2 separate regions of the Homo sapiens genome follow, and region 2 is linked to region 1. The links come from fine-mapping of genetic effects on gene expression. Tissue or cell type: hypothalamus. Region 1 holds a variant in brackets; the other region holds the start of a gene. All regions are shown on one strand. Distances are between the middles of the regions.

Region 1 (8,263 bases):
GTGAGCGTGCTACTGTTTTGAGTAACCTGGCAATGTGTCTTTTTTTTTTTTTTTGAGACAGCATCTCACTCTGTCGCCCAGGCTGGAGTGCAGTGGGGGCGATCTTGGCTCACTATACTCTGCCTCATGGGTTGAAGCAACTCTCCTGCCTCAGCCTCCCGAGTAGCTGGGATTACAGGCATGCACCACCACACCTGGCTACCTTTTTTGTATTTTTAGTAGAAACGGGGTTTCACCATGTTGGCCAGGCTGGCCTCAACCTCCTGACCTGAAGTAATCCACCCACCTCGGCTTCCCAAAGTTCTGGAATTACAGGCGTGAGCCACTGCCCCTGGCCAGCAATGTGTCTTAAAAAGTTTTACTTTTGAGTTAGAAGCATTTATTTTGACCCACCAATTCTATTGACAGGAATTTATTTTGCAGAAATAGTCAAAGGTCTTGCCAAGATACTCATGATATATTATTAAATAAACAAACTGACCACAAAATAGCAGGCTCACATAATTCAGTTTTTAATGCATATGTACACACATATCACACCTAGAAAAAAATATGGAAAGGTTTTATATGGAAATAACATTAATATTTCTGGATAGTGATCATAAACAATTTTACTTCCTTATTTCTTTTTTTTTATTTTTTTTGAGACGGAGTCTCGCTCTCTTGCCCAGGCTAGAGTGCAGTGGTATGCAGTCTTGGCTCATTGCAACCTCCACCTCCCGGGTTCAAGCGATTCTCCTACCTCAGCCTCCCAAGTAGCTGGGACTACAGGCAGGCATCACCATGCCCAGCTAATTTTTGTATTTATAGTAGAGACAGGGTTTTACCATGTTGTCCAGGATGGTCTCCATCTCTTGACCCTCATGATCCACCCGCCTTGGCCTCCCAAAGTGCTGGGATTACAGGCATGAGCCACCACGCCCGCCGCTTCCTTATTTCTTTAGCTTTTCATTTTCTTCCTAATTGTTCTTTAATGAGCATGCATGGCTTCTGGAATTTTTTTTAAAAGCACAAAAAGATTATTTTTAACAGAATGGTTTTACCTGGTAATGGAAAATATAATGACATTGGTATCAGGGAGATAAATTCAGTCCAGTCCTTTTGGGAGAGCAATTTACCATTGTATCAAAGGTTATAAAAATATGCAACTCCTTTGATGCAAAATTTTGTCTGGGAACTGGAATGAGATGTATCATCCCCGGGTAATAGACTGGAGACTCATTTCTTGGGGTTTCTTATGTGTGTATTTTCCAAGTTTTCAGAAAAGAATGTGCAGAACAAAGGTTGTAAAAGAAATTAGAGACTCCTTGTAGGTTCCTATGTTTATATCATTTTCTTGTCAAGGAAATGAGCTACAAAGGTGCCAGATCTAATCTTGTTTACCCTTGTTACTGCCCACACTTAAACTGTTGGTGCTTGTGTTTCTCATCCTACATGCAGAAATATTAGTAATACATTAAAGAAATGAAAGTGGGCAGACATGCAGAAAGTTTTATGTCCGAGGACATTTAATTAGACATTCTGGGCCATTAAAAAAAAAAAATCCCAGAACATTTCAAAGTAAAAGTTGTAAGCGAAATGGCAGAATGGTTATGCTGAGTACCTGTTAGTGTGTCTTGACCTTGAATCCTGGCATGTGATCCATGGGTCTGGGAATTGTGTGCAGCAGGTACACAGCGTACCTGAGAGGTAATGAAGCCAGTGTTTTAATAAGCCCTGCCATACTTAGAAATTCAAATCCATGTTACTCCCTTCCACGAAGGGAGGTTATAGAATTATTCTAGTACTTCTGATAGCCACAAAGGTAGAAGGAAGTGTAGAATGAGCTCCCTGTGGACCCATCACCAATTTCAACAGCTGCCAGCATTTGCCAACTCATTTCATTTATTTTTCTCCCACCTCATTTATTGAAGTGTTTTTTTTTAATTTAAGATATGTCAGTTCACCCATAAATACTTTATCTCTTTTCTATTTCACCCATAAATATACTCATTTCTAACTGATAAGCACACTTTAAAAATGTTTTAATAGTATTATTACTTTTTAAGAGACAGAGTCTTGCTACGTTGCCCAGGCTAGCCTCAAACTCCTGGGCTCAAGTGATCCTCCTGCCTCAGCCTCCCAAGTAGCTGGGACTCCAGACTCACACCACCACACCCAGCCAGAAAACATGTTTTCTAACTAGTCAACATACCATTATGCCACCTAACAAAATGAATGGTAAGTCCTCAGTATCATCTGACATCCAGATTGTATCTTAATTTTCCCAGTTGTTTCAAATTTTCTTTGTTGCAGTTGGCTCTAGATACTATATTTGCTTACTATATTTTATGTCTTTTAAAAAGTGTTTTAAAACTTCTGTTTTTCAATAGACTGAATGTATATCATTGCACTTCTCTGTGCAACACAAGAAAACTATAATGTTTCCTTATCATCATCCTTACTATTATACTCTTAGTAAAGCCCTGTTACATAGTTTGATCATCTTATATGTCAGACTCAAACTCTGAATGACCTCTGGCTTTTCCTTTTTTTTTTTTTTTTTTTAATTAAAAAAATTTTTTTTAATAGAGACAGGATCTTACTATGTCACCCAAGCTGGTTTCAAACTCCTGGACTCAAGCAATCTTCCTGCCTCAGCCTCCCAAAGTGCTGGGATTAGAGGTGTGAGCTGCTGCACCCGGCCTCTGGCTTTTTCTCAAAATTAAATCCACCTCAGTGTCCACATACTTTCTGCCAGGGAGGATAATTAAAACTACCTTCAGACAGTGCTGTGGCATCTCCAGGTGGATTCAGAACAAGATTCCCCAAACCAGCCGTGGGCAGTGAATCACGGGGTGATAGTTCTCCGTGTGTCTGATTTGAAGGGTCCTCTTCCCTTGGCGTAACATCAAAGACAGATCTTAGCACCTCATCTGCATGAACTGAGTGTATAAATGCCTACCTGCTTGACTTACCTGTTCTGACAGGGGCTATTGGACTTACCACTAATGTAATTGATGTGTTTGTTTTCACACAGATAATCGCTTATCAGCCGTATGGAAAATCTGTGGACTGGTGGGCCTATGGCGTCCTGTTGTATGAAATGCTTGCCGGGCAGGTAATGTTTTGCTACATTTTCATGTTTGTTTATTGCTGTGTTATGTGAATACTTCAGCTCTGGTTGGGCCTCGAGAGCAAGACCTGACGTTTTAGTGCAGCTGGTGTTGGCGTGACTTCCCTGACCCAGGCGAAAGAGGGAGAAACGCCCCCTTCAAAGTGGATCACGTTCAGTATGCACAGAAATTATCTCTGGTCATAGAAACTCCAAATTGAAAGCTACAACCTGGAGTGTAGACAGTGTCAGTTTCACGTTATGAAATGTACATGTTGGCCAGGCGCGGTGGCTCATGGCTATAATCCCAGCACTTTCAGAAGCCAAGGCAGGCGGATCGCCTGAGGTCAGGAGTTCGAGACCACCCTGGCCAACATGGCGAAACCCCATCTCTACTAAAAATACAAAAATTAGCCAGGCGTGGTGGTGCACATCTGTAAACTCAGCTACTTGAGCTACTGAGGCATGAGAATTGCTTAAGCCTGAGAGGCGGAGGCTGCAGTGAGCCAAGATCGTGCCACTGCACTGCAGCCTGGGCAACAGAGTGAGACGGTCTCAAAAAAGAAAAAAATGTGCACGTTGATGACAGCAGTGGCCTCTAAGTTTTCAGTATCTTAAAACTGGGGTTGGGTTATATGGTTCCCTGCAAGTTTGTCTGCAAAGATTGCCCCAGCTGCTGCCAATGTGTGTAATTAGTATTATTATTTAAGGAAGAAGACAGTTACCTTGAAGAAGTGTTTTAATAGTTTCTCCCCATCTCCTCCTATCTCACCCTTGGCAATTCGTTGTAATTTTCACTGAAGTCCAGTGAGGCTGAACATCCAGTTAAGGAAGGTAAATTAGCTTTCTCTTATGATGTGACATGTACCAGATAACCATGTGCCTTATTGCCTAACATGGCACTTTCTAATATAATGGCCTTAATATCTGTGTCATCAGGGTGAATCGTACTATCTGCCACTTCTAGGCCTGGCCCCTAAGACATCCTTTATGACTGTCCTCATGCTCTAGGCTGAAATTAGGAGGAATTAGTGGAGAAATCTGAGACCCTACAAGATGGTGGTGCTGATGGATGCGAGAAGCCTGAGTCTTTGAATGACCCTGTGGTCAGTGCCCACCCCCACATAGGACACTTCCGTGGCAAAGTCCCATGTGGGGGTG[G/A]GGCACTGACCCACAGGTTCATTCAAGGACACAGGTTTCTCCTGTCCGTCAGCCCTACTACCTTTTAGGGTCTCAGATTTCTCCGCTAATTCCTCCTCCTTTCAGCCGAGCACAGATCAGTTACATAGGATATCTTAGGGGCCGGCCTAGAAATGGCATGTATCACTTCTGCCTAGGTTCCACTGGCCACTTGGCCCCAGTGGGACACAAAGAGGCAGGAAGTATAGCATATCTGAGAGCTCAGCAGGGGAAGCAGGCTTGGTAATCACGAAGCAGGCTTGGTAATCACCCAGCAGATCTCTGCCTTATACTAAACATGATTCTGCCGTGGGCAGCTTTTTATAATTCCCAGCACTCACATGCTAGTGCCAAGACCTGTGACTCTCCATAGCCAGAAGCCTTAGTCAGAGACAATGGAAAGAGATGGCCATGCTGTGCGACAGAGCCACCCCCAAAGACATCTTTGTTTCTGGGGAAAAAGTCTTCCCTTCCCACATGTTACGTCCATTGACTCATTTATTCATTCACTCACCACGTATTTATTCACTGAATGCTTACAATGTGCATGGCCATAAGGATGAACAAAACAGACGAGAATCCTTAACTTCGTGAAGCTTACAGCTTAGAGGAGGAGAGACAGCAGACAGGTTAGATAAGGAAAATGTATAACACAGCAGAGGTAAGCTAGGAAGAAAAGTAATAAAGCAGGAAAGAAGATAGTGTTGGGGGAGGTTGAAATTGGCCAGAGAGGATAAGGTTAAGACCTAAAGGAAGTATGGGGTTGTCTGTGTGCATATCTGTTGAAAGGGCATTCCAGGCAGAGGGAGCCACCACGCGAAGGCCCTAAGGCCAGGGAATGTGCAGCCACGTTTAAGAAATGGAAGCTCCCAGCAGGGCTAGAGCAGAATTGAGCTAGAGAGGGAGGGAGTAGGAGGCCTGAGGCCAGAGAGGAAGAGGCTCTGGATCCTGTTGTTAGCAGTGGTGCATCCCCATGAGGCTGCAGCAACCTCAGTTCTTGCCTCCTCAGAAGAAAGAATTTGACTGTGGGGCATCAGGTAGAGTGAGAGCCTAAGACAAGCTGTTTCTGTTTTGTTTTGTTTTGTTTTTGAGATGGAGTTTTGCTCTGTTGCCCAGGCTGGAGTCGGTGGCGCGATCTCAGCTCACTGCACCCTCCGCCTCCCAGGTTCAAGCAATTTTCTGCCTCAGCCTCCTTAGTAGCTGGGATTACAGGCACCTGCCAACACGCTTGGCTAATTTTTGTATTTTTAGTAAAGACGGGGTTTCACCATCTTGGCCAGGCTGGTCCTGAGCTCCTGACCTCGTGATCCACCCGCCTCAGCCTCCCAAAGTGCTGGGATTACAGGCATGAGCCACTGCACCTGGCCTAAGACAAGTTTTAGAGAGGAATGAAAGTTCATGGAAAAGCTTTCAAGCAGGAGCAAAAGGAAGTAAAGTACACTTGGAAGAGGGCCAAGCCGGCGACTTGAGAGATCTAGTGCACTCTTTGACTTTTGACTTGGGGTTTTATGCATTGGTGTTCTTCCAGGGTCTTACATCTCTTCTCCCCTGATTCTTCCCTTGGGTTGGGCTGTCTGCGTGCGCAGTGGCCTGCTAGTGCTTGGGAGGGGCGGCATGTGCAGTGTGTTTACTGGAGTTACGTGTGTGCTCAGCTGAGGCATTCTTCCCTTACCAGTCAGATGTCCTAGAAGGTGGTGTACCAGTTAAACTCCGCCATGTTGCCTTTTCATGCGCGTGCTTGAGCCCACTCGCCCAACTCCTGAAATCTTATTGGGAAGCTGCTGCTCACCAGTTTCAGGTGTTTCCCTTTATTGGGAGACTGCCTTTCCTTGGTGCTGGCTGCGACCAATTATTATTTTACAGAGAGAGAGTTAACCACCTGATGGTCGCCTGACATTCCTGGTGGGTAGGGGGAGCCCTCTCCTGCCCTGCCCATGTCCGAACAGCCACCTGTTGTAACACTGTGACCATGAACGTCATCTCCAGATCAGCGGCTTTGCCTCTAGGATGGGAGGCTGTGGATGATCTCTCCTTTATGTGTCTTTCATTATATTTCCTAAATACTGAAATGGTCTTGTAGACATTGAAAGACATAAAGCTTTAGCCTGCATTTGATCATTATTTCTCAATGGTGTTAAGGCTTGACTGACATCAAAAGAGTGGTTTATTATTTATTTAGTTCCCCTCCCCCCACCCCAAATCAAAGCATTCCTCTTAGGCCAAATACGTCCGGGTGTAAACACAGAAAGGCAGTTCGTACACAGTCACCATCAGTGAGTCAATGGCTGGAGAAACAGGAGTTGTCTGCTCCTCAAGTTAATTTCCCCCTCTTTAAAATTTTTACAGTAAAATTCGGCTCTGAATTACAGGCCCCCTAAGAGTCCTGCTTTTCATGAAGTCACAAAAAGCCAAGTCCCCCTCTTGATCCCACTTGAATGTTCAGCTCTTGAGTCTGGAAAACAAACCCTGCTTTCATTAAGAGTCACATTTGCATATGCTAACATGCAAAAGGGGCTGGGCGGAAACGAAGCCAGGATCTGTTTCCGAGGGCGCTTTACAAGAGGTCACGTGAGTAGACTCTTGGCCAGCAGGAGACAAGAATTTCAGAACCCAGGTCTGCAGGAAAGTCCTCCTCCCTCCCGCAGCCTGGCTTCTCCCCTCTCCAAGCCTTCCTGGGATCTCATTCACTAGGGGAGAACTCAGGGAATGCTTTCTTCTGGCAGAGAAGTCCCCTTTGGGGGGTGCATTTTGAAGCTCTGCCACACTGGCCTCAGACCTCATTTGCAAATTGGCCTGAGGTGATTTACAGGCCTTATTTAAAGGTTTCCCTACTAAGCTCACGCCCCCTGGAGAGCACCAGGCTCCAGCTCTCAATAGTTCTGCAAACTTTCTGGCCTGTTTCCAATATTTCCCACACTGCTTCTCAGAGCCACTTAGCCTGCCTTATATGCATACTTTCAGGTCTCCATCATCTCTATTAAAAACGGTGATGGCTGGGCCCGGTGGCTCACACCTGTAATCCCAGCACTTCGGGAGGCCGAGGCGGGCGGATCACGAGGTCAGGAGATTGAGACCATCCTGGCTAACACAGTGAAACCCCATCTCTACTAAAAATGCAAAAAAAAATTAGCCGAGTGTGGTGGCGGGCGCCTGTAGTCCCAGCTACTCGGGAGGCTGAGGCAGGAGAATGGCGTGAACCCGGGAGGCGGAGCTTGCAGTGAGCCGAGATCGCGCCACTGCACTGCAGCCTGGGCGACAGAGCGAGACTCCATCTCAAAAAAATAAAAGAAAAAAAGAAAACGGTGATATTCTTTAAAGATGACACCTTAGACCAGGTGCAGTGGCTCATCCCTTTGGGGCCCTTGGGAGGCCAAGGTGGGTGGATCACTTGAGTCCAGGAGTTCGAGACCAGGGCAACATGACAAAATCCCGTCTACAAAAGATGCAAAAATGAGCTGGGCGTGGTGGCAAGTGCCTGTCATCCCAGCTACGTAGGAGGCTGAGGTGGGAGGATTGATCGAGCCCGGGGGGTCAAGGCTAGCAGTGAGCTGTGATCATCACACCACTGCACTCCAGCCTGGGTGAGAGAGTGAGACCCTGTCTCCAAAAAAAAAAAAAAAAACAACAACTCCTTAAAGGCACTCCACATTCTGGTGCAATGGCAGGCACAGATAACAGCCTTTGTTCCTCTAAATCTCCACCTCACCCGCCTCAAACACAGTGTTTTCATTCAAATCCCCTTCTTCATCTTTCTCTCTGACTCCTCAATGCAAATTTAAATGTATTCCTAGGCTGTCACTCAGCTCAGAAAGGATAATGAAGGCTCTACCCAGTATTATCCACAGCCCCTCCAAGCTTCAGCAATCCCAGAGACCCAGCAAACGGAATAGATGTTGTTATTGAAAAGTAAGATTAATGATAAAGTCGTTGACAGGGTTTTGGTCTAAGTTTGTCCTCTTTAATCGCAGAGGGCTGAAGATGAGCAGGAAA
Region 2 (8,000 bases), 550 kb before region 1:
GATTGCTTCCTGGGGATGTGGAACTGCATTGCATTCTCCACTGTCACACTCCCAACCTTCTCCATAGAATTCTCTTCTAGAGACTACCAGGTTGGTCAATCAAATTAGCCTAATAACTAAAGCCCAAGTCTTATTCCTAAAGTATTTTAACCCTATCCAAGATTTGGCCCAGAGATCATATGGAATTATCATCCAGGTTCAATCATTTTAATGTACCTCCTCTGAGATAATTAATCAGGAGCAGAAAAATTAGATACAGTGGTGACTACGTATTGCACTAGTTGTTATATTCTCCAATCCTTACCCCACCCTCAATGCTACAAGACCATCCTGGCTAACACAGTGAAACCCCGTCTCTACTAAAAACACAAAAAATTAGCCGGGCGTGGTGGCGGGCGCCAGTAGTCCCAGCTACTCAGGAGGCTGAGGCAGGAGAATGGTGTGAACCCAGGAGGTGGAGCTTGCAGTGAGCCGAGACTGCACCACTGCGCTCCAGCCTGGGCGACAGAGCGAGACTCCGTCTCAAAAAAAAAAAAAAGCAGGACTAAAATCGATTTGCATTTGAAAGTCCAACCTAAAGGCTGAAAACAAAATATAGACCAGTCTTGATGTTTAGCTTAAGGATACAAAAATGTGCTCAGTCTGTTAACTGCTTAGTTCCATGAAAGTTCTTACCCAGTGTTACAAGAAAAACTGATCGTGTTGGGATATTCAAAAGTCGTATAGCGTACGGCTCCATTTTCTAAGATTCCAGCAAAAGGACATACTCTGGCTGTGATACAAAGATAAAAAATGTTACTTTTCTTTGGGCTAAAAAAAAACATAAACAGGTAAATTTCTATTTATAGAATTTTTCATTAAATGAAACATATAAATTCATTTTCATCCTTTGGTTCAATAACTTTACTGGTAACTATTCTAAGAAAGCAATTCAAAATAAGACAAGTGATATATGTACAAAAGCGTTCATTATACTGTTTCTCCTAATAACAGAATTTGGACAGGCGGGGAGCAGTGGCTCACGCCTGTAATCCCAGCACTTTGGGAGGCAGAGGAGGGTGGATCACTTGAGGTCAGGAATTTGAGACCAGCCTGAACATGGTGAAACCCCATCTCTACTAAAAATACAAAAATTAGCTGGGCATGATGGTGGGTGCCTGTAGTCCCAGCTACTCTGGATGCTGAGGCAGGAGAATAGCTTGAACCCAGGAGGCAGAGGGTGCCAAGATGGCACCACTGCACTGGGCAATAGAGTGAGACTCCGTCTCCAAAAAAAAAAAAAAAATTGGATAGTCTAAGGGTTCATCAGGGGACTGTTTTAATTAATCATGGTAAATCAAAAGTTGAACTATTATGTAGCCAATAAAATATGAATTGTGAAATATGTGGAGATACAATTTTTATGATATGCTGATGAAAACAGAAAAATACAAAATTATACCTGCTCTCTGCAGTAATGCAAAAAGATATGCATGGAAAATAAAAAAATGAAATTTTTAGTGTTCCAGAGTTATAGCTGATTTTTATTTTATTTATTTATTTATTTTTTTTTTTGAGACAGAGTCTCACTCTGCTGCCCAGGCTGGAGTGCAGTGGCACAATCTCAGCTCACTACAACCTCTGCCTCCCAGGTGATTCTCCTGCCTCAGCCTCCTGAGTAGCTGGGACTACAGGCGCATGCCAGCATGCCCGGCTAATTTTTTTTATTTTTAGTAGAGACGAGGTTTCACCATGCTGGCCAGGCTGGTCTTGAACTCCTGACCTCAGGCGATCCACCCACCTTAGGTTCCCAAAGCGCTGGGATTACAGGTGTGAGCCACCGCACCTGGCCCTGATTTAAAGAAAAATTTTCCCTAATGATGTTACATTGGCTTTTTACTAAAAATTATGTTTAGGCTCTTTAAGCAAAAAAGCATAGTAAAATCAACTTGCATGAACATGCATAACTTTGACAAAGGTCCTGTTCATATAACCAAAATCACCAGATCCATACATCTATTTTTACTGCTTAACTTCTACATATAATTAAATGTACCATAAATTCAATCTGGTTGATTGCATAATACTTGACTGTAAAGAATAATGCTAGCATGATATCATAGAACCATGTTCTAAGAAATAAATAAAAGCAACCATTTACAGTAAAGCCATAGTGAGATTGATATATTTTACGTTATATTATTATTTTAATTTGACCTCTTTTCTTGTATTTCATTATAATATAATATATACATAATGTAGATGAAATTTGTATTCATTTCAGTAACTATTAAGTCCGCTTTCATTTTCAGGTGAAGTCCAAAGATATGATGATTCCCCAAATTTTGTTTTTCCAAATGTCTCTTTGGCATCAGTTGACATTTCAAAGCCTCTCCACTGTTCTTTTAACTTCTGTAGTGTTTCTTTCTCCTTTTGCCACACCAGATCTCATTTTTAAACCTACCCTAGTTTCAGGCTATGATCTTCTCCTCTTCTATCAATAGCACCTATTACCCTTACTCTCTTTGCACAGAGAGAACTCCCCAAGACCTTCTCATTTCTCTCCAACCTGGCTTTCTGCAGCATCTACTGGCCCTCTGCACTCTGAGCATGACGAGGTAGCTTATTCCTCCAAAATACCCAGAATCCAAATGAGGGAAGAGAATGTGAGAGAAGGTACTGACTTACGTGTACATTTCAGAGTGTTGATGGGCCACAGTCCTGTGAGAGGGCAGATAAACTTTCTCATCCCTCCTCGGGACACATAGCCCGGCTTGCAGGAATACGTAATCTCTTCTCCTGGCTCATAGAATGTTTTTAACGGGACCACTGTGGAAAATGGTAAATCATCTGGCTTGGGACAGGCTGAAAGAGGGCACAAAGCAGATGGTTAACAAATCTCTATTTGCATTTTAAAGTTCAGCTAAGCCCACAAATGAAAAATGTGTGTACTGTTACCAATTATAAGCATACCAAGTTGCATGCCAAATACCTCATATACACTATCTCATCTAATCCCCTCAACAACCATTTGAAGGAGGTATTATAATTATCCCCATTTTACAGGTCAGTATGCTGAGGCTTAAATTGGCTACGTATCTTACAGAGGAGCTTTACACATGGCAATATTAAAGAATCAGTATCAATCCAGTCCCTCCAGCATCCACTCTAAAGAGAATTTAGTTATCAGCTGGGCGCAGTTGCTCACACCTGTAATCCCAGCACTTTGGGAGGCTGAGGCGGGTGGATCACGAGGTCAGGAGATAGAGACCAACCTGGCTAACACGGTGAAACCCCGTCTCTACTAAAAATACAAAAAATTAGCCGGGTGTGGTGGCGGGCGCCTGTGGTCCCAGCTACTCGGGAAGCTGAAGCAGGAGAATGGAGTGAACCCAGGAGGCGGAGCTTGCAGTGAGCCGAGATCGCACCACTGCACTTCAGCCTGGCGACAGAGCGAGACTCTGTCTCAAAAAAAAAAAAAAAGAATTTAATTATTCTTCTTCTTATTATTATTATTGTTGACTGAGTTTTGCTCTTGTTGCCCAGACTGGAGTGCAATGGGGGGACCTCGGCTCACTGCAACCTCTGCCTCCCAGGTTCAAGCAATTCTCCTGCCTCAGCCTCCCGAGTGGCTGGGATTACAGGCGCCTGCCATCACGCCCGGCTAATTTTTGTGTTTTTAGTAAAGACAGGGTTTCACTATGTTGCCCAGGCTGGGCTCGAATTCCTGACCTCAACTGATTCGCCCACCTCGGCCATGATGCCCAGCTAATTTTTGTATTTTTCATAAAGACGGGGTTTCACCATGTTGGCCAGACTGGTCTCGAACTCCTGACCTCAGGTGATCCACCTGCCTTGGCCTCCCAAAGTGCTGAGATTACAGATGTGAGCAAGCACGCCCGGCCTACTTATCATTATTGATCCCTGACATATACGAAGGGGTTGGATATATTAATTATTTTTTCAAAAGCAAAAAGTACTTACTCCGTCCTGCAATAGCAACATGGCAGAGAAAACTCGAGAACAAGATGAGCACTGGAGAAATCATTGTGGATGAGTCACACTGGCACTACCAAAGTGGTTTTCGTCTGCTAAAAAGACAGAGCCAAATATGAAAGCGCTTAAACATTAACCATTTTCTGGTGTACTTTTATCTTTGTAAATAGAAGATAAAGTATCATGATTTGAATGGAACTCTGAGACCCACATTCTTTAATCATTTACTTTCCACTTATGTGGCTCTGTTATGAAATCTTTGGGAGATGGTTTCTGTCTTCATAACGTTTTTGTTAATGGCACAAAACAGTTCATTATTGCTTTTGACAGAAACTTGTTGTTTCCGGGGTTGCCTGGACTTCTCATTCTCCATCTTTTGTTTTGTGTATGTTGTAGATGGAACACCAAAAGATCGAAGCTCCTGTTTCACTCACAGCCTTGGCATATAAACTTTGGACAAACACCTACTCTCTGTTCTCAGTCTCCACCTCTCTAAAATGATGTTCCAGTTTTCAGATGTATAATTACAAAGAATGTCTTCCAGGAGGCACTTACAACTTTAATTCCCTACAAACTGAGCTCAACATCCTCTCTTGCAAGCTCCTATAGCTCCAGTTAGGACCTTAGAGCTATCCTTGAATTCTCTATCTTCTCTTACGTCAGATCAATACAAAGTCCTCCTCATCCATTCTTAATATGTCTTGGATCTGTCTAGACAGGTTTCTAGATCTGTTTCAGGAATTTGAAAATTGATTTGAAATTAACAACTTGGGACTCGAAGAAGAAAAAAAAACTTGAGTAGGATAAGATAATGGGCCAGTGCTGATGTTGTTGCTTGAGAGGGTTCGGAAGGGGGGTTGTCTTTGATTCCCTAGTTCTCTTCTACATCATTTGCTCTAAAAAAAAAAAAAAGGATATATAAATGGACAATAGCCAGGCCATATGTGAAAACAGAACTCTGACCCACACATCTGTAGCAACAGGTCTAGAAAGCCAAACCTACAACCTCTATAGCAGTTGGCCCAACTTAAGGCCAACCAGAGAAATCCAAACATATTTCTCTAACCAATCACATGGACACCTCACTTCTAGTTAGTTTCCTTCCATCCTCCCCATACCAACAATCCGTTGGAGCACACCTGAAGCCTTTCCTTTTTTCTATTATAAAGCTTTCCCACTCCTCTGTCTGACTTTGACTTTGAGTCTCTGCCAAACACAACTGTTAATGGCTGCCTCCCTTCCTATAGCAAGCTCTGAATAAATAACCTCCGCTTGCTCTCATTTGGGTGATCTTGGTTTATATCCAGAGGTCTAAAATTCCCTGAGACACATCAGCTTGAGAAATCTCCATCTGTCAGGCAGATGATTCTTAAATTACGATCCTAATGAACATTGTGTTCCATGATAAGAAGAGTGTGCTGCCACTAATGTGAAATAACAGTGGTCCTTCCCTATTTGTCCTTCTAAGGGGAAGGAGATTCTTGTTCTCTGGATAATTCCCAGGTTCCGCTTTATTGTGGAGAATCTCCTTGATGAATGAAGAAGAAAGAAAACTAATGAAGTCAGGAGGAGCCAAGTCGTTCTGTATAGTAAGATCTGAAGTAGAAGGGGAAAAGGAGAGAGAAACCAAAGAGGTCGGGCATCAGTTAAAGAAAATTTGAGAAAAGGTTAAAATTGAGACGAGAATATTTTCAGCAACAGCTACAAACTGAGTGCCTGATATTGAGAGAGGACAAGGAGAAGGGTTTTTAATGATGTTTCCTGGTGGCTGGGCTCCCTTGCATTAGGAAACTTGGGGTAGGGGTGTCGAAATAGTTTATATTCTATTTTAGGTGGTTGTTACTTGGCTACATGCAATTTTCAAAAGCCATCAAGCCAAATATTTAAGATCTGTGTGTTTACTTGATTATACTTCAATTGGAAAACTATGCACTCCTTTCCTCCTTCTTCCCTCCCTCCCTTCTTCCTTCCCTCCCTCCCTTCTCCTTCCTTCCCTCCCTTCTCCCCTCCCTTTTTCCCTCCCTTCCTCCCTCCCTCCTTTCTTCCCTTCCTTCCTTCCTTCCTCCCTCCCTTCCTCTCTTTCTCCTTTCCTCCCTTCCTCTCTTCCTCCCTTCCTCCTTCTTTTCATCCTAACTCAGTCTAAAAGTCACAAGGAAGGCCTCAAGGGGAAAGTCATGCTTATCTGTGTAAGGATGGCAGCGTGATGGTGTCACAAGCTTAGCTACATATAGGAGATTGAGCAAACAAGCAAATATATTGAGGATAATGGGGGTCAGGTTTCTCACTAACAAGAGAAGTAACAATGCGGAAAGAAGGAAAGTTAGCATGAACCTTGAGGTGTTGGATTGAAAATGGAGACAGTACAAATTGTGCGTATATATAAACAGATACAGAAATCAATATAGATATAATGGTATGTACATGTGTGTGAATGTATGCCTGAATATACATATAATTCTTAGTTCTGTCCACTAGGATAATAGCAGTAGTACATCCAGTAGCAATGAGCACACACAGTGCCTAAATATTGGTTGTTAAATGCAATTCTTGGCCAGGCCGTGGTGGCTAATGCCTGTAATCCCAGCACTTCAGGAAGAAAGAAAGATCGCTTGAGGTCAGGAGTTCAAGACCAGCCTAGCCAACAGGGTGAAACCCTGTCTTTACAAAAACTACAAAACCTAGCCAGGCATGATGGCAGGTGCCTGTAATCCCAGCTACTTGGGAGGCTGAGGCAAGATAATCATTTGAACCCAGAAGGCAGGGGTTGCAGTGAGCCAATGAGATTGCAACACTGCACTCCAGCCTAGGCAACAGAGCGAGACACTATCTAAATAAATAAATAAATGCAATCCACCATCGAAAGGCACCAAAGCTCCTTAGAAAATTGGCTGATTCTTGAACTGGGTCAAGGAAAAGTACAAGATGAGCCTGGAACACCATCTTGAACAACTTAGGTAATGCTCAGAGAATGATAGGGACATGTCCAAAGGACAGAGAAGCCATTTGAAAGTGGCTTTCTTGACTGGGTGCGGTGGCTCACGCCTGTAATCCCAGCAGTTCAGGAGGCCGAGGTGGGTGGATCACTTGAGGTCAGGAGTTTGAGACCAGCCTGGCCAACATGGTGAAATCCCGTCTCTACTAAAAATACAAAAATTAGCAGGGCATGGTGGCGTGTACCTGTTATGCCAGCTAGGAGGCTGAGGCAGGGGAATCACCTGAACCCGGGAGGCAGAGGTTGCAGTGAGCCAAGATCGTGACACTGCACTCCAGCCTGGGCGACAGAGTGAGATTCCATCTCAAAAAAAAAAAAAAAAAAAAAAAAAAAAAAAAAGCGGGGGGCGGGGGGTGCTTTCTCTGGTCAAATATGTGACAGTTTGTCCAAATAAGTAATAATAGTAATGGATTATACTCCACTGAATAAAATAGGAATCAGTGAGTCCACAGTGATAGTAATAAACACATTAACAATTATGTGAAGAGATAAGAAAGTTATTCCTTAGAGTATAATGCCAAGCAATTAATATAGAGGAATACTGGACTTAGAGAATTGTAATTTGGAAATAATTATGAAACGATTTAATTCTGGCAAAGAAGTATCAATTGATGCTAGAATCAGGGGATACAAGTAGGATGAGAAATGTTCATACAGCCTTAAACATGTCTCCACATAAAATAACTATTTATTATAAAGGAGACAAAGAGAAACTTAGAGGGGAAGAACCTGGCAGACACCATCTTAATTAAGTAATCAAAATTAATGTCACCACTAATGGGATAAATTGGCATGTATGTCCTCCACCAAGAGGATGCAATGAGAAGGACACAGCGTCACTTCTGTGATATTCCTGCCAAAAGCTTAGTAACCTGGATTGTGTCATGAGAAGGCACTGTACACACACAAATTGAAGGACGTTATGCAAAATGACTGCCCTGTCATCTTCAAAAGGGCAAAAGCCATGAAAGGCAAAGAAAGACTTAGGGAACCCAGGTGGACATGAGAACTGGGTGCACAGTGTGGGCCCGAA

Alleles and levels. Positions count from the first base shown, and alleles are read on the strand shown. Sizes are in standard deviations (SD) of each study's normalised expression.
As copies of A replace G in region 1, the expression in hypothalamus of the gene that starts at base 4,063 in region 2 goes up (large effect, 1.4 SD a copy in GTEx).

What was found. PIP is the estimated chance that this variant, and not a neighbour inherited with it, causes the effect.
Region 2: APOH starts here. The variant in region 1 is fine-mapped to the expression of APOH in hypothalamus (GTEx, PIP above 0.99).

The regions. Positions count from the first base shown.
Region 1 is chr17:66,770,968-66,779,230 of GRCh38, forward strand. It overlaps PRKCA (protein kinase C alpha), which reads left to right. Exons shown (of 17, transcript NM_002737.3): 14 at 3,020-3,100. Among named protein-coding and RNA genes, the nearest start is that of MIR634, 12 kb to the right of the region's middle. The variant G/A (reference allele first, on the strand shown) is at 4,256.
Region 2 is chr17:66,225,353-66,233,352 of GRCh38, forward strand. APOH (apolipoprotein H) reads right to left here and starts at 4,063. Exons shown (of 8, transcript NM_000042.3): 1 at 3,964-4,063; 2 at 2,668-2,844; 3 at 676-772. The coding sequence starts at 4,027. RefSeq lists a silencer at 7,699-7,993.